Regions from separate parts of the Homo sapiens genome. Here all the other regions are linked to region 1. Evidence: fine-mapped expression QTL. A gene starts in region 1. Each other region holds a variant in brackets. All regions are shown on one strand. Distances are from middle to middle.

Region 1 (8,180 bases):
GTAGGTGTGTTTTTTTAGCTAGGGGGGTTGGGAGAAAGGTAATTTAGGGTTAGCGCATGTCAACGTGCTGCTCCAGGGGGAAGTAAAACCACAGACAGTAAACCTTACCCAAGGCTCCTGTAAATATAGAACGATCCCACACGTTTAAAGCAAGCAAACTATAGTAATTAACCAAGAAAAAGAAAGCTTTGGACCTACCTCCCTTTTGCCACAGGGAATGGCTGGGGGTGTGGGTTGACTTCTCCTCCTGAAAATCTAAATTCTGATAGCCTCGCCAAAGGGGGGCAAAATAAGAAAGAGCATCTTTCCTCAACTTCTCCACTGTTGTCCCAGCTCCCTTTCTGGGATCGCACTGTCCCTCTATATGCCTTGCCAAGCATCACAAGATCCATTACCCATGCAGAATTGCTAACACAGTACCAGGGAACCCTGAAGGCTCCTCATTGGCCTTATTCTCTCATGGCTTGAACAAGTTCAGGTTCTACCTCAGTGGCTTCTAAGCCACATAAGCCATCTGTCATGCTGGTTCTCCAGGGCCCACAAGGTCCCCTCTCCCAGGGCCAGGCCAGAATAGCCTAAGCAAAGATATGCAGGTGTTCTAAGTCTTGCTGATGCTAAAGAAGCCAGTTCCTCATTTCCTAAATGGTCCTACAATATCATAATAACCCTAGCATACACAGTAGACTTCAGACCTTTTCTGTTGAGCAGCAAAACACTCCCCCGTCAAAGGAAAAATTATGTGAAACCCCAATACCTTAAAGGTATAAGTGCATACCACCTTTTAAAGTTTAAGTTAATATTATAAACTTCTTATAAAGTCAACACACTGGTTAAAACTTGAAACATAATGAGTTAAAATTCCATTTAACACATTTGAGAAAACATGGTTTACCTTTTACAGTTTTAAAAATACTGAAAAGAAGATATATTTCTAAAAATAAATTCAAACCAAAGGTAGTCAATTTCTAAAGCACCTCTGAGGATGAAGTTTGAGAAACACTACCCTAACTCTTAATTGCATTGCCCTTTCACTACTGAAGTTAAAATCACTCCCACTAAAGTGCCTGATTTTTTTACATGTTGGAATCAAGTCTAAACGAAAGTAACAACACTATTTTGATCAACCACATTTGAACTCCACACCCCCCACCCCACCATGTGAAGTTATACTGCAATTGTTATTTTGGTCCTCTTCATGTCTTAAGAGGCCTCCCTGAAAGTGGGAACAGGAAGGAATATTTCCTTATTAAATATCTGTTCTTCTTTCCTATCTGAGTAACTTGTTTCTTTCAGTACGAGGAATGGCTATTTTTTGCCTTTGGGTGCAAGCAACCTAAATTTTTTTTAATGATAATAAAGAAGTATTCTTCAAAGAACAGGCTTGCTGTTTGATCTTCCTTGTAAGGTTGGTGCACCTTCAGACAGAGCTGTAAAAACTAGAGCAAAAAACAAAGGTAACATTGGTTTACATATTCATCCAAAATATTTTCATGCGAGACACTGGCTCCAATGTATCTATATGGTATAGCACAGCATGTACATTGTAATGATATTTTGAAAGTATTCAACAGAGCAAATATTTTCTCCCTAATAGCACTATTAAATAGCATCCTTTCAATTTCACAGCTAGAGAAACTAAATCCCACTCATCACCCAGGGCCTTGACAAGGCTCAATCTAAGCTCTACTGACCCTGCCAGATGACCACCACCTCAAAGAGACACCTTCATAAACAGCCATCATTGACAAACAGGCATGTGATCTGGGCTCAAAAGGACTTCAGTCTATTCGTGAAGACATGGTTCCCATTCCAGCTAATAAATCATCATCATCATCATAACAAGCGTTTGCTAAAAGTGAGCTGCTGTTATTATCCTTATCCTGGTGTGTCTCCCTCTTGATGAGCTAAATTTCAGTAGTATCTACCTCTCTTAAGCATTCTCTCCCATAGAAAAGCATTAAACAGACAAACGAGGATAACAAATGTCTGTACTCAATTCTTGGCAGCAATTAAGATATACATATTATGCTTCCTTAAGAAATTACTATTTAGATACACACAGCTTCTGCCAACAATATTTCTGACTAGCCTTGTGAGAGAAAAACTACACATTTAAAGCAAAGACAAATGTCATCTGAGCTTTCTTTATGTTCTTCCCATCACTTCTCTAACCACCAAACTAAGGGTTAGTCCGTTAACAACAAAAGCAGAAAACAGACACATATAACCTAAGCAAAACTACAAACTATCCCAACTATCTCCCCTGAAACTGTTAAGAATGTGTTTCTATGTCTTCTCTTTAAGGCATCTGAAAACAGATTCTAGATCTGAAATCCCACCCAGTGGAAGTTGCAATCAGCCATGAATGGGCGCGCTCAGACCTATTCTAGTAGAGTGAGGCTGTTGCTTAGAAAGGAGCTGTTCTTTGCCACAGAGCAGCAGCGACACACTATCCTAGCTTTCTTTTCCATGCGAGAATCTGTATTTGATGAATAACTTGCTCCATGCCCCAGTAGGAGGAGACATATTTAAGTTTGGCCTTTAGAATTGAGACAAATTTCAAAAATGTTAACACTTTGCTTTGAAATTGAAAATGAACCTATTCATTAAGAACAAAGTCCAAAAATTCTAAGTGGAAAAGTAACAGTACTTTCTTCCATCCCCTTTCACCTCAAAAGCTGCAGCTTGGTCTAACTCTTTGGCAGTGCTGCCAAGGAAACAAGCTGGAACTCAGCTTCCTGAGTCAAACCCTGACCAGGGTGGTGAGCGCATTTATCCCTTTGCAGAAGGGCAGCTCATGTTCATGTCTAGCCCCGAATCTTAGCCCAGGAACAAGGAAGAGCTCCAGGTTTCAAAATAAGAGAATCACACGGAAAGGCCATTACTTTCACGTCCTGAGTCAAGGGCAGCAAAAGGAGTGACATTCATGCCTGTAACCCATCTAAGGATTAAAGGCTGAAGAATAACACAGAAGAGTTTAAAATTGACTTTGCCCTTTGAAAAACAATAAGCAATTCTGGATTTGAAACCAACAATCATGTAATATTAAAAAGGCACCTAATTTGCTGTTTGAGGTACCTGTAATCCTCCCAGGACATGTGAGTTCCTGGAAAAAGCTGTCTCTTTTGTTGTTTTTGTTGTTGTTGCTGTTGTTGACAAAGTTGTTCAGGACAAAGAGACCCTGGGGTAGTCTCCATTGTGAGAAAGATCACCAGGAACCACCTTCATGCCCATGTGCTCTCTGGCTCCCCCTCCAGCCTGGTGGAGGACCTGGCTGAAAAATACTTGAACTCAGCAGTGCCAAAGATTTTCATAACTGCATGCAATGGAGCAACAAGTCTGAGAGCTAAGGGCCAGAAGACAATGCAAGCAGTTATTTCATAAATCCCAAGAACAGCAGTTTGGGCTTATGAAACCTTTCCTGGTTTCATGAATATTTCCGTTCTGCGCCCTCCCATGTCCCCACTGTGCCCCCTCATTCCACTGGCACTTGTTCCACATCTGCAAAGTTACAGCTGAGAGGGGAGAGGCACGGAAAGGAGAAGAGGAGGGAAACTGCGGAAAGGCCTGGTGCAGGTCCAGGGAGTCCTGTCTGGCTGAGTCGGGACAAGCTGCTTAAACTCGCCTGCCTGGTGACACACCCGTGGGCGGCAAGTGAACCAACCTGCCCTCCAGCGACCTTTCCCGTGATTATCGTCAGGGGCCCCGCCACCACTCGGCCTACTGCGTTGAGCTTCAGGAAACCATTCCTCAGTTTACTGATAAGAAAACTGAGGCCGCAGCCTTCGCGGGGCAGGTCCTGGGAGCTGGGAGATCCCGGCGCCATCCTAGCGGGGGCCGCACTTACTCTCCGAGTCGCTGAAGCCGCTGCTGTCGCTGACACTGGCGCTGCTGCGCCGCTTCATGCGCTCCAGGTGCTCCTCGTAGTGGAAGTGGCGCTCGTGGAAGGGCGACGCGAAGTCGGCCAGCACCGCGTCAAACTCGCACAGCGCGTCCGACAGGTCCTCCGCGGCCGCCGAGTCCAGGGCCGGGGCTGCGGGCAGGGCCAGGGGCTCAGTGCACGGAAGTCAGGGGGGCAGCGGGACCACCTCCCAGGGCCAGGAGGGGCCGCCACGGTTCCCGAAGATAACTGACACTTGGCGCCTCTGCCAAGTGACAGCCACGCAGTCGCTGTTACCTTGTAATCTTCTCCACCACCCCCGAAGTGCGTTCTATTACCAAGTCCGTTTTACAGACAAGAAAACTGAGCCTTCGCCAGGCCCAGGGTCACCCAGCGACTTGGCGCGGCCAGATTCCTCCCCAGGCGCTGCCGGTTACCTGTCCCCGCCGCTCCCCCCAACCCCGGGCGCGCGCGGAGCTGGTGGTGGAGGGAAGGTGGGACATGGGGGCCAGCCCGGGCCGGAAAGGAGGCTGCAGCCGCCCGCGCGGGAAGACCGGGGACAGGTTCCCGCCGGGGAGGATGGAAGGGTGGGGGGTGTGAAGGGACGACACGGGGCCCCTCCTTTCTCACCCGCCATCTGCAGAGCCGAGACTTTAAGGGGACCCCGGACCCCGCACTCACCTGCGGCCGCGGCGGCCGCGGGGCTGCCCTGCGCCGCGGGCGGCTTCATGAGGCGGCTCAGCTGGGCCCGGCGCGCGTGGCCTTGGGTCCTGCGAGGTGGCAGCCGGGGCTATTCGGGGGCTTGCTGTCCCGCACACTTCAGCCCTGCCAGTCCCTTCGGCGCTGCGCTCCAGCCGCGCCGCTCCCAGCACGGTCCGCGCCCGCCCTACCACCGGCTCGGGTTCCTAGATCTTATAGCCTTCGGCGGCCGGAGCGGAGGCGGGGCCGGGGCGGGGCTGCGGAGCCGGGGCGACGGGTCTGTCCCCGCCGCCCTCCGAGGAGGCCCCTGCCCCCAGGCACCGCCCTCGCCACGCGCCCGCCCTGGAACCGCGGTGACGAGGAGTCGCCGAAGCCCCGGTTACAGCCCCAAATATTTACCCGCCTCTCGCCCCCGCGCCCTGACAACCCGGCCCACGCGGTGTCCTCGGCGTCACCAGAGCTGACTGCTGGGCGCGAGCTCTGCTGCTTCCCGCCGCGTGCCAGGCACCTCCGCGAGCCGCAGCTTCCTCGGCTGTGAAGTGGACGTGGGCATGCAGAGCCTCCCTGGCTGGCGGTGAGGGACGAAGGAGCCCGCGGCCGTGTCCCAGTCGGGTGTCGGGGACGCGGAGGTCCCCTACGCATTGTCCCAAGGGGACTTCCGAGATGGTGGGCGGGCGGAGTGGAGAGGGTCGGGGCGAGAGGGGCAGGAGTTGGGGGAGTCCTGAACTGTTCCCACCGCGGAGCGCGGGGGCCTGAACTACGGTCCAGGGCGCTCCCGCCAGCCTGACTTTATCTAGAAGGGGTTTATTATGGGAAGAAACTACTGCGTCGACGCAGCGCGAACAGGGCGCCTTGCAGTGTCCACGGAGTAACGAGCCACCCTGCCCCGCGGCCTGCGGGGGCGAACGCCCTGGACTGTGCGCTGAGCTAGGCGCTAGCCTCTCGCCTCTCACCACAGACGGCTAATTAAATGTAGAGCAATTAACATGTAACGGAGTGAAACATTCAGCCTCCACTCCCAGCTAGTTTTTGTATTTTTAGCAGAGACGGGGTTTGTCCATGTTGGCCAGGCTGGTCTCGAACTCCCGACCTCAGGTGATCTGCCCACCTCAGCCTCCCAAAGTGCTGGGATTACAGGCGTGAGCCACCGCACCCAGCCAGGATTTGTTTTCAGAATATAGAAAGACCCATCTACAAAGTAATCACAAATAGACAACCTGGTAAAAATTAAAAATGAGCAAAACATTGAAACATACACCTCACAAAGGAGTATATGTTAATGACCACTAATCATATGAATAGTCCTCCTCTCTTGTCTACTCTGGGTGGCCTAGGGATATGCTTGTCTTGTGGAGGCACAAGCACTGTGGGCTCAAGAGTGGGGAGCCTCTTTCCCTGTTAAGGGGAGGACACCACTGGGATCTCTGGTGCCATCTCCTGCAATGGATCCTCTGATGTGGGGTCGAACAGAACTTCAGGAGTTGATTTCCCTGGGTGAGTGGAGCGGGATCCTTCCTTAGCTATCTGTCCCTTTGCTACTAGTATTGCTGCTGCATGCCCTCAGCCACTGTGGGGGTTCTAGCACCAGCTGTCACCAAGTGTCTATGTATGGGAACTGGTCTAGGTATCTTTACCAGTTACCTTGTGCCACGCCTTAGAAACAAGGGACCTGTCCAGGCTTCCTTCTGATGGCCAACCCACTTCTAATGGTGCGCAATCTATTTCCCACAAGGTTCTAAGTTCCCCTGGTGGTCTAGTGCTTAGGATTCGGTGCTCTCACCGCTGCTGCCTGCGTTCGATTCCCGGTCAGGGAACAAAGAAATGGAGCATGGATGAGCAGCGGACAAAACCCCTCAGACAGCGGATTAAAGAAGGAAGAGTTTTTTTTATTCCGCTGGGAGCTTCGGCAGACTCGCGTCTTAAGAGCCGAGCTCCCGGAAGGAAGACAGAGTTCCTGGCCCGTTTAAGGGCTTACAGCTTTAAGGGGTTCCACGTGAAAGGGTCTTGATGGATTGAGAGCACATGTACTTAGAGTCACGGGGGTTGATTGTTTCACCTCAGGCCGGCTCCTCATTGCCACCGGCTGGTCTTGACACTGACTTCATTCCTGTTGTTTTCCAACTTTTACTTCCTCCTCCTCTTCAGAGACAGGAGACAGTAGCGAAATGGCTTCTCTCCTCAGGGCGACAGGATGATATTACTCCCAATATCACAGGGGGTGTACACACCCCTATGAAACTCTTCCTACTATCCAGAGGGAGAGAGGATGATATTACTCCCAATAGCGCAGGGGGTGTACACAGCCCTGTAATACTCTTCCTAAAATCCACAGGGAGAGAGAATGATATTACTCCCAATATCGCAGGGGGAGTACACAACCCTGTGATATTGTTCCTAATATCCAGAGCGAAAGAGGATGATATGACTCTCAGTATTGCAGGGGGTGTACACCCTCCTGTAATATTTTTCTTAATACCCTGGGAGGGAGAGGATAAGATTACATTGAATATCACAGGGAATGTACACTCTCCCCCCTCTGATACCCTTCCTAATATCCAGGGGAAGAGAGGATAATTTTCCTCCCAATATCGCCGAGGCAGTACACCCCCTCCCCATGATATTGTTCCTAATATCTAAGGGAGGAGAGGATGATGCTTCTCCCAATAAAGCAGTGGGTGTACATTACCCCTGTGTTATTGTCTGTAATATCCGGGGCGCGGGGGGTGCAGGGGAGAGGATAAGATTCCCTCAAATTTGGCAGGTGGTTTGACACCCCATGTGGTATTGTTTTTAATATCCAGTGGGGAAGACAATAATACTACTCTCAATATCACAAGAAATGTACATCCCCCTGTGATATTGCTACTAATATCCAGGGATAGAGAGAATGATGTTACTCCCAATATCGTCAAAGTGTCCACCCCCCCCTTTGATATTGTTCTTAATATATGGAAGGCAAGTATGATATGACTCCCAATAAGAAAGGGGGAATACACGCCCCTGTGATATTGTTCCCAGTATGCTGTGGAGGAGAGAATGATATTACCCCCAATATCGCAGGATGTGTACACCCCCCTGTGATCTTGTTCATAAGGTTCAATAGAAAAGATAATCTTACTGGAAATATCGTAAATACACTGTGTGTCCACAGTGGCTGCTAACATGCAGGGAGGGACGGAGGTTGATATTACTCTGCGCATCAGCGGGGGCTGTCCACACGCCTTCGATGTGGCTCCTAATATCCATGGGGAAGGGGGGGTAGATATTACTCCCCGCATCACTGGGGGTGTCCATCCCCTGCCATGTGGCTTGTAATGTCAGGAGGGGCTGATATTTCTCCCCGCGTCGCGAGCGTCGCCCGCCCCCCTGCGATGTGTATCGTAATAGCCAGGGAAGGAGAGGGGCGTGATATTACTCCCCGCATCGTGGCGGAGTCTATCACCGGTCGGGATACTATACACCCCCTGGGATATTGGGAGTACACCCCCTATGATATTGGGAGTAATATCATACTCTTACCCCCGAGTATTAGGAACAATATCATGGAGGGAGTGTTCACCCCCTGCCATACTGTGAGTTATGTCATTTTCTCTACCCGTGG
Region 2 (8,180 bases), 90 kb before region 1:
TGGAGTGGTAGCCAGGACCCAGAGGAGAGTGAGAGAATGGCAGTTCCCCCAGGGCACACTGACCTGCAAACAGGTCCAATTTCAATTCCAGATGCAGGAAGCTGAGAGGCAGGCTCCCGCTCCCCACATTCATGCCCATCAGCAAGCCACGCCACATCCAGCAGCCAGCCAGCCATTCACTGCACAGAGGCCCCCACCAGGCCAGCAGCAGCTGTCACCCTTCTTCAGTCATCTGTTCCTCAGACACTTTTGTGGATAGGGCCCAAGTAACTTGATTAAGGTAAGATGAAATGAGAAATGTTTGCTCCTTGAAAATTGCTAACATCTGTCCTGGCTAGCAGAGCCAGCACTCTTTGTAACTGAGGAAAGAGAATCCCTGAGGAGTCTGGGTGTGGGGACGATGGCACTCCCTGTGCACCCATCTCCCACCTGCCTGCCCCTGGGAGCCTGCAGGGAAGACAAGGCATTGCTGTATGAGGACCTGGACTCGAGTCTTGACTCCACCAGGACTCTGTGTGCCCTTGAGGCAGGTTTGCTGGGAGGAGGAGCTAGAGGATGTGAGCAGGTGCAGCAGACATGAGGTGGTGCTCCATTTGCCCCTGCAAAGACCTCCTTCCTTCCTGTGAGCCCAGAAGGGAGTGAAATGACCCAGCACATGGCCACAACCTGACCTTACGGAGGTGGCCTCAGTGGGTGGGGACGGGTCTGGCTTCAGCGTCTGGTCAGGTGAATGAATGACTTCCAAGAACTGTGCACAGGGAGGTGGTTGGCAGGTGGACCCAGGGCTGGCCCCAGAGAGATATCACTGTGATGCCACTTTATAGCTGATGACATGAAGCCAAGAGGCATCTGAAGATGTTACAATGACCCATTGCTTGTTCAAGTCAGCGAGGACACAGAGAAGGAGCCAGGGATAGCGGTTCTGGCATCTCCCGCGTCTACAAGACGGCATCACCTAACACGGCCGCAGCTTCCCCACTTCTGTGCAGGCTCCAGACTGGGTCCCTATGGTGGATTAATGATGGCCACAATTCCTTGTCATTCTCCCATCAAGAATTTACTTCCCTACCCTGGACCTGAGCTGGCCACAACAGCTCAACCAAAGGAAGGAGGAAGAAGTGACACTGGGCCAGCTTCTGGCTAAGTGTTAAGAAGGCTTCTGGTTCTGCACTTTGAGGAGCCCCGAGCCTCCATGTGAGAAGCCCCCAGCTCCCTTCACCAGAAAGTCTGCATGGAGACACTGCATAGAAAGGCCATATAGGGAGCGAAGGCCTTGAGACCACGTAGACAGGCAGCTGTTCTGGGACCCTGGGAGAGCGACCAGAGGACTCCAGCCCAGGCGCATTCTGCCTGCAACCTCCCAAGAGACCCCAAGTGAGACCAGCCAAGAACTGCCCAGCTGAGCCTAGTCAACCTGCGGAAACATGGCAGGGAATATATGCTTGCTGTTACAAGCCATTAAGTTCGGGGTGGTTTATTACACAGCAGTGGATCACTAAAGACCTCTCCATTGCTGTCTTTAGGTAACTTTCTGCTGCCTTCATCTAAAAGCCAGGCCCCAGAAATCGGAAATGCCCCCCACATCAGAGTCCCTGTAGGGCGTCTCCACAGCATCCCTTGTGGTGCACGTGTCTTCAGGTCACTTCCGACTTTCATATGTCACACAATGTGCAAGTGCAGAGGATGCAGGAGGCACCAGACGGACCTCGAATTGTGAAATCCCAGGAGCCCATCTCCTGGTTCTTGTGGACAGGCTTAAAGCACAAACAAGCCCTCCTGATTCCTTTCATCCTCTTCCCTCTCCTGGGACTGACTCTGATTCAGCCCCTCAGAAGTGCCGTCAGCTCTGGCCGCTCAGTGCCCTTCAGGCCTGGCTTGTGCTCAGGCTTTCAGCCTGGGGCCCATCCCCGGCATCAGGGCAGCTTGGTTCTTGCAACCTCTTGAGTGCAGACTCGGCCTCCTCAAACCCCTGCAAGGCCTCCTGCTTCAGGGCAGCTCTGAGGGGATGGCCCGAGCCGCGTCCTCACCAGCACATCCTGATGGACCCAGCCAGCCTCCAGCCTCCCCTAACCACTGGCACTGGGTCCCCTACCCACCCGTGACAGGAGCCCCACTCTTCCAGATCAACAGGGAGATATTAAAAACTCTCATTCCAAACCAAGTAATTCTCTCCAAAAGAGAACCGGGGCCTCTTCACTCACCTTGGCCCCTATACCATGCCTTGGCCTTGGAGGGACAAGTATGGTTTAACAGATATTTTTATGAACAATTTCAAATGCATGCGAAAGCAGAGACAGATGTAGATCAGACCCCCATGGGCCATCCCCAAGGCTCATGGCCATTCTCGTTTCCCATCGCCTAGCCTCTGTCTCTGCACTCCAGGTTACTCTGAAGTAAATCCCGGCTATCACATCATTTCATTGTAAATATTCAGGCGTGGAGCTCTAGAAGCGAGGACTCCCCTCTTCAACTACAGTGCCATCGTCCACACATTCTGAGAATCTCGTCTGTGCTGGGCCCTGCCCCGAATGCCTCCCAAGTAAGGCCCACTGTGGTATACGCCAGAAATGAGAGTGCAGGGCTGGCCCTGAGGTGTCAGCTCCCCAGTTTTGGATGCTCCATAGAACATGGTAGGTCCAGAAGCCAGAGGAGAGTGAGAGAATCACAAACAGACACGCAGGACAAGATTCCAAAACCCGACTGGACTTGGACGCAGCCACGGTGCCGCTCTGTGCACCGACGCCCCCCCTCTCATCACCTTCCCCACTAGAGCTTCCTGGCCTGGTTTTGGTGTCCTTGGGTGGCCTCAGAGCTGCAGACCCCCTGAAGGTAAAATGGCTTAGTCATTCACTGTCACCCCAAGAATAGTGCACATTCCAGTGAACAGCTGAGCCCAGCAAGGGCCATCTGCCCGTGGCCCATGCACCAATGTCCCTGTACTGCCCTTCTTGGCGCTACCCAGAATGCCTCACTCAGAAGCATCGCGGGACTCCTGGCTTTCCCATACATCTCAAACAGGGACCAGAGCAAGGGAAATAAATACGAGAAATTAAAGTCTGTTTTCATTATGTAGCATTTTGAAAACAAGTTAGCTTGCAAATTCCTAAAACGCAGTAATTATGCCTTTATGCCGTTTTGTGTCTCTCATAGTTTCTATACCAGCATTTCTAACCTTGACACTATGGAATTTCAAGCCAGACAATTCTTTGTTGTGGGAGGCCATTCTGAGCATTGTAGACTTCCTAGTCTGTACCGCCGAATGCTAGCGGCAGCCTTTCTTCTCCAAGCTGCGACAATCAAAAATGTCTGCAGACATTGCCAAATGGCCCCTGGGAGGCAAAGCTACCCTTTGGTTGACAGCTGCTGATCTATACAACAGTAAGTATTGAATTCATTTGTATCTTGATTTATTTCTAATTGTCTTCAGTTCCCTCTGAAAGACATGTTTACTGACTGTGCTAGATAAATTAGAAATGAGGGGGCGACTGAGGATTTTCTCTTTAAGAGCCTCACGTTTGCCTGTCTTAAGGGTTTTGATAAAACTTGCCAGCAGTTTTGTGATCACAATGGCTATTAAGACTTCAAATATATATATTATATTTAAACCAGAAGCAGCTCAACAAAATGAAAACTAAGCAAGTAATTGTGGTATACTGAATAATAAGACTAACTCTTCTTGTTTTACAAAATTTTTTTTTTTTACACGAGATGGTCTCTAGGGTTGGAGACAGAAATAAGTCGACCCACTGTGATGTGTTTCCCATAGACTCTGAGAACTAAGATCATAGTTTTACAGGACTTGACCAAAGATTTTTATCCATTTTTTGGATTTTTTTCTCATTCCATTATTTTTCCTTTTTTATTGCACCCCTAAAAGAGGCAAAACACCCTTCACAATGTCCACATTGCAGCAAAAGCTGTGCGATGATTTACATCTAGCTAAAAAGTTAGAAGTTTCTGGAGCGACCAGTCCTGCATTCCCCTCACTTTTGCTGATGATTTCAGTAGATGGTTTGGCCCTGCCCTGCTATCAAGAAGTTCAGATGTCTTCCTTGAGCTCACAGATGCTGGTGCTGGGGGAAAGGTCCCAGGTTATTGATCACCAGGCCAAGGCAGGCTGGCTGAGTAGCTACAGAGATACTCACCATGGGCCTCAGGGCCGAGGCTCCAGGAACTCAGATCTCAGGCCAGTGCTGTGTGGCCACAGTGCCTGCTGAGGGTGCAGCCTCGCGAATCCTCAGCTACAGTGCAAGGGCTTCCTTATAGACGAATTGTCACTTTAGTAAGCAGAGAGCAGGGCCATGAGGTAATGGACTGAGAACAGGTAGGGCTGGTGAAGAAATAGAGCAAGGAACGGGTATCTGCGGCCCCTTGGAAGAGGCAGCAGAGAGCTCCATGGGAGTGGGAGGCCGGAACAGGGAGGCTGATCTGCCTCCCAAAACTGTGCCTGAGACTGAACCTCTCTCCAGCCCGAAAATAGGCCAGGAGGGCTGGGCTGCCTGTCCCCGCAGCCTCTTTAGGGTGGGGGTGGCAAGAATGTTTCTCTCCAG[C/T]GACACATCCAAGCCTCTCCCACGCCACGTTGTCAGCTACTCTGCTTTGAGGCTTAGTTCCAACCCCTCCCAGGAAGGAGGAAGAAAAGACTCATGCCTGAGACCAAGTCCCAGCAGGCATCTCCTTAGGACGGAAGATGGAAATGTTAACCTTTTCTGCTTGCTGAGCAGGCAGTGAAAGGAAGGCTGTTGTGAAGAATAGGACCCTGAGCACACTCTGTGCTTGGGGACATGATGTGCCCTTGACCACAGTGCACAGGGCAGAGGGTTGGAAAGCACTGACCCTTCTGCACAGGGGAGGCATTCAGGGCCCTGGGTTCCCACAGGGCTGGCTGGTCAGTGCCTCACGGGTGCCTAGCTGGGCTGGGAGCGGCCCCCTCTCCCACGGTCGTAAACAAGGCTGGCCTCGGGAGGGGCTGCCCAGGCAGCCGGTACACCCAGCAGGCCGGGCCCAGCTCATTCCACTGCAGCCGTGGGGGCCCTGGGGACTTAAACAGAAGCCCGTGTCTGCTAACAGAGGGAACATTGTTTTCTGGAGTGGGCTGCACTTTTTTCTCCTCTCCCTTCAGAGAGGACAGGGCCATGGAGGCGTGTTTATGTTACTGTTATTTTCAGCTTGGCAAAAATGTAAATGTGAGAGTTCACACTGACAGAAAATCGACAACATTTTCCCTGTGGACAGGTGCGGCTGTCACCCACTGCTCAGGTCCAGGAGGGCAGCTCTCCCAGGGAGGCCAAGGGTCTGGGAAGGTGAGTACACACAGAAGTCGGAAGTAAAGAGCCACCAGCAAAGGTGACCCACCTGGACACCTTCACCACAGCAGCACTGGGCTCTCCCGCGCTGTGCTGTGATGCTGCAACCCAGGCCTCATGTGTCTCCCTGGGCCTGCCTCAATGCGGGCTGCCTGTGGCCTGTCCCCTTGCCTTCTCCAGATAAAAAGTCATTCTGTTCCTGGAGCTTTTGTGGCGTCTCATTTAATCTCCATAACAATAAATTCATTCATTCATTCATTCATTTATTCAACCATCTATCCAGCCATATGTATTGACACTGGGTTCTGGGGTCAGAGAAGCGGACGGCACAGATATGGAGAGAGGAGCTTCTGGGGAAGACAGAAAGTAAACTAACAATTGCAAGAGGGATGGATGAATGGCAGCAACAACAGTACTAACCACTAATTCCCAAGACCTTGTGATGCGCTGGGCATATAGAAGCTCACTGGATCTTCCCCATGCTGATTCAAAGGACTCATTCCATCCCTGCTTTACAGAGAGAGCTGAGTCACTCAACCACAGCCACACGGTTGTTAAGTGGCAGAGCGGAGGGACAGCCCCAGGAATGCCCAAAGCCTGCTCCCCCAGAGGCAGCCCTCGGTTTTCTGAGGCCTGTGGGAGTTTGGGGGCAGATACACACTGAACATCCATCTTGGGGTCGGGGCTGTTTGCAGAACCCCAGCCTGCTGTGCAGGGTCAAAGGCTGGTCCTCTCCAAGTGTAAGCCAGGCCTTAGGGAGAGGCAAACACCACTAACTTGTTCCTGCCCTCCCAATGCTTCGGTCACGCTGGGCCCTCTAACCCCATCCTGCTGGGGAAGAGTCCTAAGGTCCAGGTAGACAGGAAGGACCAGTCTAACCCAGTGCTTCAAGAAGTGACTTAGGCAGCATCACCCATGTGTGGCCAGCTAGTGCCCCAGATCTTTGCCTAAGAGGAGAGGAGGAAAGAGCTTGGCCTGGGAGTTAAACAGCCTTCCCCTGGATCCTCCACCAATAAAGCTGATGAAGCTACTTGCTGCCACTGGCTCAATGGTGCAGGGAGCCGAGGGGGAAGCCAAGGCCTCCAGCCTGGAGTGTGGAGCCTGGCGAACAGAGGCAGGGAACACTGGCAGTCAGGGAGCGTGTGGTCAGAGGAAGTGGGGTCAGTGATTCGGGCTGGAGCTCCCCACGTGGGAGGGAAACTGCATGTCAGAGGGGCAGAGTGTGCATTGAATAGACGTCCCATTTGAACCCAGAAGGAGAAGGTCTTTGTTTGGATCTTCTTGTTAGACAAGTGAGATTAAGAGACTGACCCCACATCTCAAAAAACCAACCATCCAGGGGCACAACCAAAAAAACATAGTCCAACACATCAATCATGGTCAACAGCTGAAAAAAGATGGACGTGTGAAGGGACCAGAAAGGGAGCATGGGGGTTGCTGCTGCGGCCACTGATCCCCAGCCCTCCTGACACTCACCTGGGAAGAGCACGAGGCACTGCTTGGTCCCCATGGCTTGCAGGGCCACCCCCTCCTCCATGTGAAGATGAGATGCAGAGAGGGGCCTTGGCCCAGTGTCCTTTGGAGACTTTGGTGAGAACTTTTTCCTGTGTGTCACTATCTCCACCTTTACCTGACAGACAAAACTAAACCATAAACCACGGCTTTCTCCATTATTAGGCGCCACATGAATCATTCCCACAAACCACATTGGAATCCAAGTGCTGGGAGGATGGGCCCCTGGGCAGGAAAGTACTCAATAATGAGAGAGTCTAGTGGGAAAATATCCTCAGAATCAGGGCTCCTGTTGAACAACTGCTCTAAGAAAGTCATGTGGCGAGGCAGGCAGGGGCACACTGCCCTGTATCCCTGGCATACCAGTACATGTGGCCCAGGGGAGGTTGCAGATGTAGGTATGAGCCTTCAGCCCTCCTCACCTTGCCAGCCTGCTGCTTCTCTCGCATGTTCCTCTCCCATCCCCTTCTGCCGCAGCAGCTGCCCTTGGCCCCACTGGATCTAGGGTGCACACACCAACAATGAGGAGTTCCCTTCAGGACAAGCCCAGGAGAGAAGCCCATGCAAGCTCTGGAAGCAGGCTCAGGGCCCCCCCGAGCACAGTGTTTCAGGACCCCAATGCCCAGAATGTGGCCTAGCAGGGCAAGCATGGTTTCCTATGAGTGCATCTCCTTGGCCCTTCAGCTTCCTCATAATGTGGTTTAGGGCACAGTCAAAGGAGAGACGGAGCACCTTTCTCAAAAAGGGAACCCAGGCAAGGGTCCTATTGCCTGACTTTAATGGTGATGCCATCTGTGTGGACAGGTGTGTGTGTGTGTGTGTGTGTGTGTGTGTGTGTGTGTGTGTGTCTAGTTCTCTCCGTCTCTCATGCATACATGCATAGTCTGAGACCCAGTTAAGAACCAAGAAGCAAACAAGTCTTCATTCAACAGAACTTTGCTTAAGCAAAAACTATACCATGGCAGGATAGGTTATTCCATCCTCACTCAAGTTTTGCTTTTTATATCTCACCTCTGGTGGGAAAGGGGACTTTTTATCATTATTATTATTATGTGACATCAAAGTTATGCCAAGAATGATTCACATTTGTGAGAATCTGTTTGCTGCCACATCTCCACTATGGTGACATAACCACCATCACCTTCCCAGGAAGCGGGAGGATCAAGTTGCCCAGCACAGGACACAAATCATGAATGGGTCACTCATCAACCTGGGGCTGGAGAAAGAGAAAAGGACACCCAAGGGGAACAGGTATGAGCCCGAGGCAAACAGCGAAGATGTTTTCAGCCTCCCTGCTCTGTCCTTTCAAGCAATGGTCAGGTCAGGTACAGCCACAAGAGGAGATGCAAGAGAGGCGCAGGACAA
Region 3 (8,180 bases), 61 kb before region 1:
CATTTTAAACAAATATATCTATAAAGTCTTGAGAAACATTACAATTACACTTAACAGAATGCCAGAACTGCATGTAGAAGGTTGTATAAAGCATGGTGAACCTCAGCAAAGGGGATGAGGTTTTCCCAAGTTGTTGGCACTGACAGGCATCACGGTGTCACTTCTTACAAAGTAGGCCTTAACAACTATAGTGTTTTAAGCTATGTTTTAAGTATTTTACATCCCCTTTTTTTTTTTTTTTTTGACAGAGTCTCACTCTATCGCCCAGGCTGGAGTGCAGTGGCTCAATCTTGGCTCACTGCAACCTCTGTCTCCTGGGTTCAAGCGATTCTCCTGCCTCAGCCTCCCAAGTAGCTGGGAGACAGGCGTGCACCACCACGCCTGGCTAATTTTTGTATTTTTGGTAGTGATGGGATTTCACCATGTTGGCCAGGCTGGTCTCGAACTCCTGACCTCAAGTGACCTGCCTGCCTCAACCTCCCAAAGTGCTGGAATTATAGGCATGAGCTAAGCTGCCCAGCCTAGTATTTTACATCCTAATGTGGTAGTTTATTACCTATATAGATGTTTCAACACATCTAATCACATTTGGGAAGTTGATTGGTGGATGTGTGCCTTATAACCTTTTCCATTTATAATAACAGGAAACTATACTAACAGGAACATCAGATCCCAATGCACAGCAAGTATTATTAACTATAGAGTTAATAATACAAAACACCAGTATTATTAACTCTATAGTTAATAATACTGTAATTCTTTACTTGAAATTTGCTGAGTAGACCTTAAATGTTTTCACCACACACACACACACACACACACACACACACACACACAGAGTAACTAAGGTGATGAATGAGTTAACTGATTTGATTGTGGCTATCATTTCACAATGTATATGTACATCAAATCATCACATTGTACACCCTGAATTTTATTGTATAGATTCAATTTTTTATATTGAATCTATAATCTAAACAATTATACTTCGATAAAGCTGAAAAAATAAAACTTAAATGCAGGAATTGTTTACTGGTTGGCATTTTTACACAGAACATCTGATATTCAGGAACAGATGACTGAGCTTAAGTGTCCACCACCCTCAGCAGAGGTGAGGCTGGTACACTAGCATCAAAAGAAGGCCATTTCCAAGGAGGAGCAGAGTCAGATGCCCTGTAGTCAGTTCCTATAACCTAATGCCTTGTAGGGGACAACTGTCATCTGTTTAGTCACCAAAAACCTGTATTGCCTTCTATGTTTGTGCCCCCACAGTGAGACCCACCCATCACTATAGAAATCAAAAGTGCCAGACACTGGCTTCTCCAGCCCCTGTGGCAGGTAGACAAGGTAAGTGGCGTGGCTCTGTCCCTTACAAGAAGCAGCAGGTCTCCCTGCACAACTTGTGTTCTGGTGATGGGCAGTGATGATCTTGGTGGCAGAACATCCAGTTTCTAGGTACAGGGGCTCTGTTCCAGCCAGCACCCAGGGTTGGGGCGTTGACAGTGGGCCCTGTAGCAAAGCAAATATGTCTTTCCCAGATGGGTTCAGTGGCAGAAGTTAGGGTGCTCTACCTGGCTGTGCGACTTCCAATCCACGTGCCCCAGGGCTCAAGGGACACTATGAGCTGCCCACTGTTGTTAATAAAATGTCTCTGCTTCACCAGCCAGGGGCAGTTGCTTTTGCTTGCAGCTATAAACCCTGACTGATAAAAGGATCTTGCATTTTCTTGGCTAACGAGGGGATTCCTTTATGCCATCTTACCCCCAATGTCTGCTTCTCTTGGCTATATCAAGTACCCAGTAGCCCTGGCCAATGGCCAGTGTGGGCAGAATGGCCTCCCAGTAGTCACACTCTGAACCCTGATACCTTTCAGATCTCAAGAAATTGGCCACCTTTCTAGCTAGTAACTGGAACATCCCCATGAGGATGTGCGTGCCTGCTCCCCACTGTATCCTGGCTCCGTAGAAAACCATCTCTGCCTCACCACCACCCCGCTTCCCCAGGGACTGCTTGGAGCCTGTGGGCTGCCTTGCTGCTGAGTATGGGAAAGGAGACAAAGAGCTTAGGAGGAGCACATGCTGAGAAGTTCCCCAAAGCCATCTAGGAGAGGCTTGTCTCTCGTTAACACTGGTTTGCAATTCTCTGCCCCAAATCGGACCAATCTGTCATCGCCCTGGGCTGACACAGGATGAATCAGACCCCGCAGATCTGGGGACTCCTCGATGGGCCCCCCAGCCACCCTTGGCACAGACACCCAAAACCGCTGAGCAGACAAGCCCAGGAGGGATTTCTAACCACGACCCTGACAAATGCCCAAACCCAATGCCAAGAGCCTCCTCCTCCATCCCCTGGGCCTCCAGATTGTGGGTCTTTTCCTTCACGTATGGCTATGTCTGAGAAGCCTGGTGCCTTCCCAGAAGCCTCCCTATGCTAATTACACATGTGGTCTGCTGAGGAGACTCATGCTGACTTTGGAGGTCAGAGGCAGCAAGAGCTACACAGCAATAGACTGCTTCACCTACTCCTGTGAGCACTGGGTTCTCAGATCCGCCATCTTTTCCAAGGAGCCCTCTAGTCCGGCGTCTTATCCCATGGATGTAACACAACTTCCTTCAGGTAAGTACATAGGTTTTGTAATCTCCCTAGGAAAAGTGAGGCCAAGCGAGGGCAAGAGGGACTCCCAATGTGGCAGAAGAATTCACATGAAGCCAGATTGTGCCAACTCAGGGCTGCTGGTGCCAGTGCTGGTGACACGTCCACATTGGCCGTTGATGTCATCATCCACACTGCTTACTCTTTAGAGGACAAAGGCCCCCATTTCCTCCTTTCAGTTCTTCCTCTTTCAACCCATTAAACAAAGCATTCTTTGGAAGTTTACAGTTCTCTAAGGACTCATCAAGGGGAAGAGTGAGAAGTTATCATCCCTAGAATCTAGACAACAAAAGGATGTCTTAGCTCTGCTTTCTAAGGAGTGGCTTACTCTCCAAACAAGATTTGTGTTGCTCTGTTTATCATCTCTTGCATCACGGATTGGCTTCTCCTGATGGGGCTGGCCTGCTCCAAAGCTAGGACGTCTTCCCACCCATGGGAACAGATGGCAGGGGTGATGGGGTGGGAGCAAGTTGGAGCCATCATGAGGTGCTCTGATGCCTCAGAGGCCAGAACAACACATCCTAGGCCAGGCTGTGGGAGATGGTCACCCAAAGCCAACTCAGTCCACTATCTCCACCACAACCCTTTCTGGAGTTGGGGATGATGATGAAAGCCCCAAGAATGCTCTGTCCTCATTGTTTTTGACACCAAAAATTTCTCTTCAATGTCCCATACACAAGCTGTAATGTTGGAGAGCTGCAGGGCTTTAGAGCCTGGCCCCAACCCCTCCTTCTACAGTCAAGGTGACCCTACTTCACATCCAATGCAAAGGCAGAACGCGGAAGGTCACACAGAGATGC[G/A]GTCTGTGGTGTGCAGAATGCATCCAGGTTCCATATATGGGCCTCTTTGGCCCAGCCTGAAGCCCAGCATGTGGCATAAAGGAGAAAAGTGGCTGGAAAGCTCCCAAAAGCTGACCCTGCAACTCTGAATTCTACCCACACAAATCTAGCCAATGTCCAGAATGGAGGAGAGACAGATCAGTGGCCTATTGGTTTTCAAGTCCAACTCTGATCCTCATATGCCCTGATAGATGCACCCAGATCTAGTCAGAGTTGCAGGGACTCTGATGTTGAGGAGGATCCCCAAAGCAGTGAGTACATAAGGACACACTGAACTTCACTGAAACCATCTGGTAGACCTCTGACATCTTTTTCAGCTTCGCTGCTATTGAGAAAACACAAGGCCACTATTTCTCTCCACTTTGAAGTAGCTACAGTTCATTCTGTATCCACAGTCTCTCTCTCTCTCTCTCTCCCCCCCTTTCCCCAGGCTCTCCTCTCCCACGAGGAATAGACACTAGGCCCAAGCAGAGCCTCCATAGTTGATTGGTGGGAAACACTAGGTGGGCTGTCAGGCTGGGGTCCATGCAAGTGGTGCCATGGAGAGGAAGCCACAGGAACCACCAGCCTCCAAAGAACCAGGAGAGGGACACATGGATCACTTTGGGTGAGGGAGGCTGTTAGGCTGAATAATTCCCTCCCTCAGATATCCATACCCTAATCCCTAGAACCTGTGAATATGCTGCCTTACACGGTAAAGGGGACTTTGCAGATGGGATTGTGTTACGGATCTTGAGATAAGAAGATGATCCTAGATGATCTAGGTGAGCCCAGTGGAATCACAAGGGTCCTTACAAGAGGGGAAAAGAATGGTGGGGGGCTCTAGAAGCTGGAATAGACAAGAAACAGGATTCTCCAGAAGACTTCAGAAGGAACGTGGCCTTGCCAACACCTTGATTTTAAACTTCTGACCTCCAGAATGGTAAAAGAATAAATTTGCATTGGTTTAAACCACTAAATTATTGGCAGATTAACAGGGAACTAATCCAGAGATCTCAGGCATGAATTCACAGGACCAAGAGGGAGAACTGGGACAGCCTCATGGGGTGCAGTCCCTCAGGTCACAGATCTGGTAGTGGGTGATTCCATGATCTCAAGTTACAAGAAAAGCCTACATCAACTGGCTTACACACAACAAGAAGTCCAAAGGCAGCAGGCTCCAAGCTTGGTTTTTTTGGGTGACTCAGTGACATGGAGAGGACCTTGGTTCTTCCCATCATTCCCTTCTGCTCATCTCACTGCTCTCTCAGTCACAAGATGGCTACCAACGTTCCAGGTGTCACATCTGGGCATACCATTGCCAAGACTCAGGAAAAGGAGCCATTTCATCTTTGTGTCGCTTGTTGAGAGTGAGGAAACCTTTCTCAGAACACCTATCCCTCTCTCCTGCCCCCTACACACTAGGGGACTTCCCCTCACATCTGGCTTGTTGGCCAGAATTATACACATGTCCATGCTTAAAGCAACTACTGGCAGGCAGTATCAGAGCTCTTTGATGAGTTTGCACACCAACTGGCACTTGCCCCTCAAAGCCAGCCTTCCTGAAGCATTTGGCTGTTGGGCAAAGGGTAGAGACCAGAACTAAATCAGGGCTGTGCTGGCAAAGAAGGGGATAAATCCATGGTGGGTAGGTGCGAAATTGTCTGCTCCACTGGTGCATGGAGTGGGCTTCAGAGAGACCCAGGAGTGTCTCTTCCTGGTACTGCAGATAGTCCCGGAGCTTACACAGCCTGCCCTTCATGTAGGGAGAGCTAGGATTGACTGGCTTGTTTCCATCACCATGGGGCACCTCTGAGCAGCAGTCTTGCCAAGCCACCCTGGTGCCTGAGTGCCCCCTCACCTGGCCCATTGCCTTGACCCACATTGTGACGCCTGATGGAACCATCTGGGTCTCAGGTAGCAGGGCTGGGTTCTGCTAACATGCTAAGGTACTGACACTAACAAACCCCACCTGCACCTGTGATTGAGATGGCGAACAATTGGGGCTACTTTCCTCAGAAAGCAGCTGTAGACATGGCAGGCCCCTCAAGCTTCATGGATTTCTCCACCAGCCCATTTAGTTACCCACCAGATGCAGAGTCTGCTCTCTCAGCCAGTTGGCCTGTAGCCTCCTCAGCCTGCTCATGACTGGTGATGGTGTCCCGAACTCCCTCTCCATCTGGCCACAATGCGGGCTTCTCCCTGCAGCCACCACTCACCTCATAGAAGGCATCACGGTGTCTGTCCTGGTGCAGAGGATTCCTGTGCTCACCTCACCGTCCCCCTCACCTTGCTCTCCAGGCCTCAGACACGAAGTACGAGAGGAGGAAGCTAAAACAACAACAACCAAACAGACTGAGGGTAAAAGGAATACGGAAGGAAAAAGAAAAGCAAGCTAACTGCAATGTGATATCCTGGATTTGTTCCTGGAACAGAAAAAGGACAGAGTGGAAAAACTGAATAAAGCACACTCTGAATAAAGTCTGTGGAGAGTTAACCATACTGGGCCAGTGTTAATTTCTTAGCTTTGACAAATGCGCTCTGGTTGTGTGAGACGTTAACATTAGGGGGAGCTGGATGAAGGTACAGAGAACTCTCTGGGCTATCTCCACAACTTCCCCATAAATTAATGACTATTCCAAAATCAAAAGTTTATTCTCTTAAAAAAGAAAAATAAAATAGCATGAGGCCCGGCCAGGTTCCTATGCTATGTTCCTTCATCAATCCCTGTGGCTGGGGAGAATCCTCTGCCACAGCCCCCACCCTAAGACCAATCCCAAAGAGAGAAAGAAGGACTTCTGAGAGATTTGAAACCCAAACGTTTCTAGCGTATATAGTTCCCAGGTATTTGGAAAAGGGGGAAAGGTCGGTATGAGAATCACTGGGATTAAAGAGGTGTCTTAACAGCAGGAGTTCTCAAAACTACTAATACGGTCGATGCTTTCTAACTCTCCAAGAAGGGGCTATGTCATGAGGCATTTCTCAACATTCATTTTGCTTCTCACTTAAGCACCTTGCAGAACCATCTCCACCCACCCCTGGGGGACCCCTGCGCCAGCCTGACTCTCAGGTCCTCTGCGACAGCTTCTGCTGCCTTTTCAGCCCCACCTTGAGGCCTAGTTCTGACCTTAGAACTTTCCAGATGCAAGCCACGCCCAGCATCTTAGTCTGAGAACTGGGTCTTCATCATATTATATTGAGTTGGCAACCTGCCTGGAGCCCAGGCCCTTGAGATTCTCATCACCTCATCCACATCATAAGCCCAAGCATGTGGGGAAGGACAGGGCCATCCTTTTTGACAGACAAGGAAACTGAGGCCCAAGGAGATTAAGTCCTTTGCCCAAGGTCACCCAGCAGACTGCTGCCTAGGCTGTGCCTTAGCCACCTAGCCCACTTTCCCCACTACTGGCCAGCCCCTCACCTGCTCCCAGAGGAAGTCCCCATGGGTGTCCCTGCCTGGGCATTTGTACACATTACCTGACCCACCGTGGCATTCCTGCCAGCCCCCGCCCCATCCACCTGGCCAGGACTTGCTGCCACTTCGTGGTTTGGCTGACTACTGCTGCTCCCTGCCTTTGTCCTTTCTGTTCCCACACCAGACCTGTTCTACCCTAGCGTCCCCAGCTCCTCCTGGCTGGGTACCCTGGCTGCAGTTATCCTGCCCTCCCCGCACTGTTGGCCATCGCCAGAGTTACGGCAAAAGGAAGGAGGGGAGGCTCGGAAAGAACACACCTGCGACAGGCCCAGGGGAGAGTGAAAGCATGACTAGGAACCCGTGTCCACCTGGCATCCCAGGGTGCAGTGCACTGACCCCTCCACCCCGTCACTGGGGCCTGGCACAGGCAGGTGGTCACCGCACTTGGCCACTGAAACTTCCTTACTTCCTGCTCCCCTTCAAGGGACCCAGCTGCTAACCGTGAGTTATGTCAGAACCAACCTTGTCCCGTAGACTTTTAAGCTCTTAGGGCTTGTGGGTGGGGTCCAGGGGTGACACTCCACAATCGAATAGGTCAGTCTAGGAGCCAGCGGCACTGGTCTCATAAAACTCCTGAAGTGCTGGCTGGGCACGGTGGCTCACGCCTGTAATCCCAGCACTGTGGGAGGCCTAAGTGGGCGGATCACCAGAGGTCAGGAGTTGAACTCAAGCTCCAATTTATAGCCCATTTGTCAAAAGGTCACCACCTGGGACTAGTAATTGGCATCTGAAGTGGGGGCAGTCCGTGGGACTGAGTCTTCAAGCTGCAGGATCTGACACCATCTCCAGAATTGAATTATAGGACACCCCCCAGCTGTGTCCACTGGAGAATCAGGTGCCGATCACCTGAGGTCCGGCCTGGCCAATCTGGTAAAACCCAGTCTCTACTGAAAATACAAAAAACAGCTGGGCTTGGTGGTGGGCACCTGTAGTCTCAGTTGCTTGGGAGGCTGAGTCAGGAGAATCGCTTGAACCTGGGAAGTGGAGGTTGCAGTGAGCCGTGATTGCGCCACTGCACTCTAGCCTGGGCAACAGAGCCAGACTCTGTCTCAAACAAAAAAAAAGAAAAGAAACCTCCCAAAGTGCTTTTATGCTCCACTTGTTTACTTTGAAAAGAGAGGTCTCATGCGAAGGCACTGACCTTTCTCTGATGTTACTTTGAATTGCATTCAAATTGTGACATTTTCCCTTTCCATTCACAGTCCATTCCAGAAAGATGTTTATCCTCAGTCAAA

Direction of the effects. Alleles are on the strand shown, and positions count from the first base shown. SD is a standard deviation of normalised expression in the study named. Not every link is listed here.
For the expression in esophagus mucosa of the gene that starts at base 4,768 in region 1, allele C in region 2 goes with a lower level than allele T (moderate effect, 0.46 SD a copy in GTEx).

What was found.
Region 2: its variant is fine-mapped to the expression of RGCC in esophagus mucosa (GTEx, PIP above 0.99).
Region 3: its variant is fine-mapped to the expression of RGCC in whole blood (TOPMed, PIP 0.97).

The regions. Positions count from the first base shown.
Region 1 is chr13:41,454,138-41,462,317 of GRCh38, reverse strand. It overlaps RGCC (regulator of cell cycle), which reads right to left and starts at 4,768. Exons shown (of 5, transcript NM_014059.3): 1 at 4,562-4,768; 2 at 3,848-4,033. The coding sequence starts at 4,610. RefSeq lists enhancers at 379-478, 3,726-3,855, 3,905-4,582 and a silencer at 4,156-4,995.
Region 2 is chr13:41,544,213-41,552,392 of GRCh38, reverse strand. All of the region lies in intron 1 of LOC105370174 (a long non-coding RNA gene), which reads right to left. LOC105370175 (a long non-coding RNA gene) reads left to right here and starts at 191. Exons shown (of 3, transcript XR_941904.3): 1 at 191-280; 2 at 3,151-3,378; 3 at 5,233-5,507. The variant C/T (reference allele first, on the strand shown) is at 4,551.
Region 3 is chr13:41,514,801-41,522,980 of GRCh38, reverse strand. It overlaps LOC105370174 (a long non-coding RNA gene), which reads right to left and starts at 5,813. Exons shown (of 3, transcript XR_941901.2): 1 at 5,690-5,813. RefSeq lists an enhancer at 1,808-1,977. The variant G/A (reference allele first, on the strand shown) is at 3,453.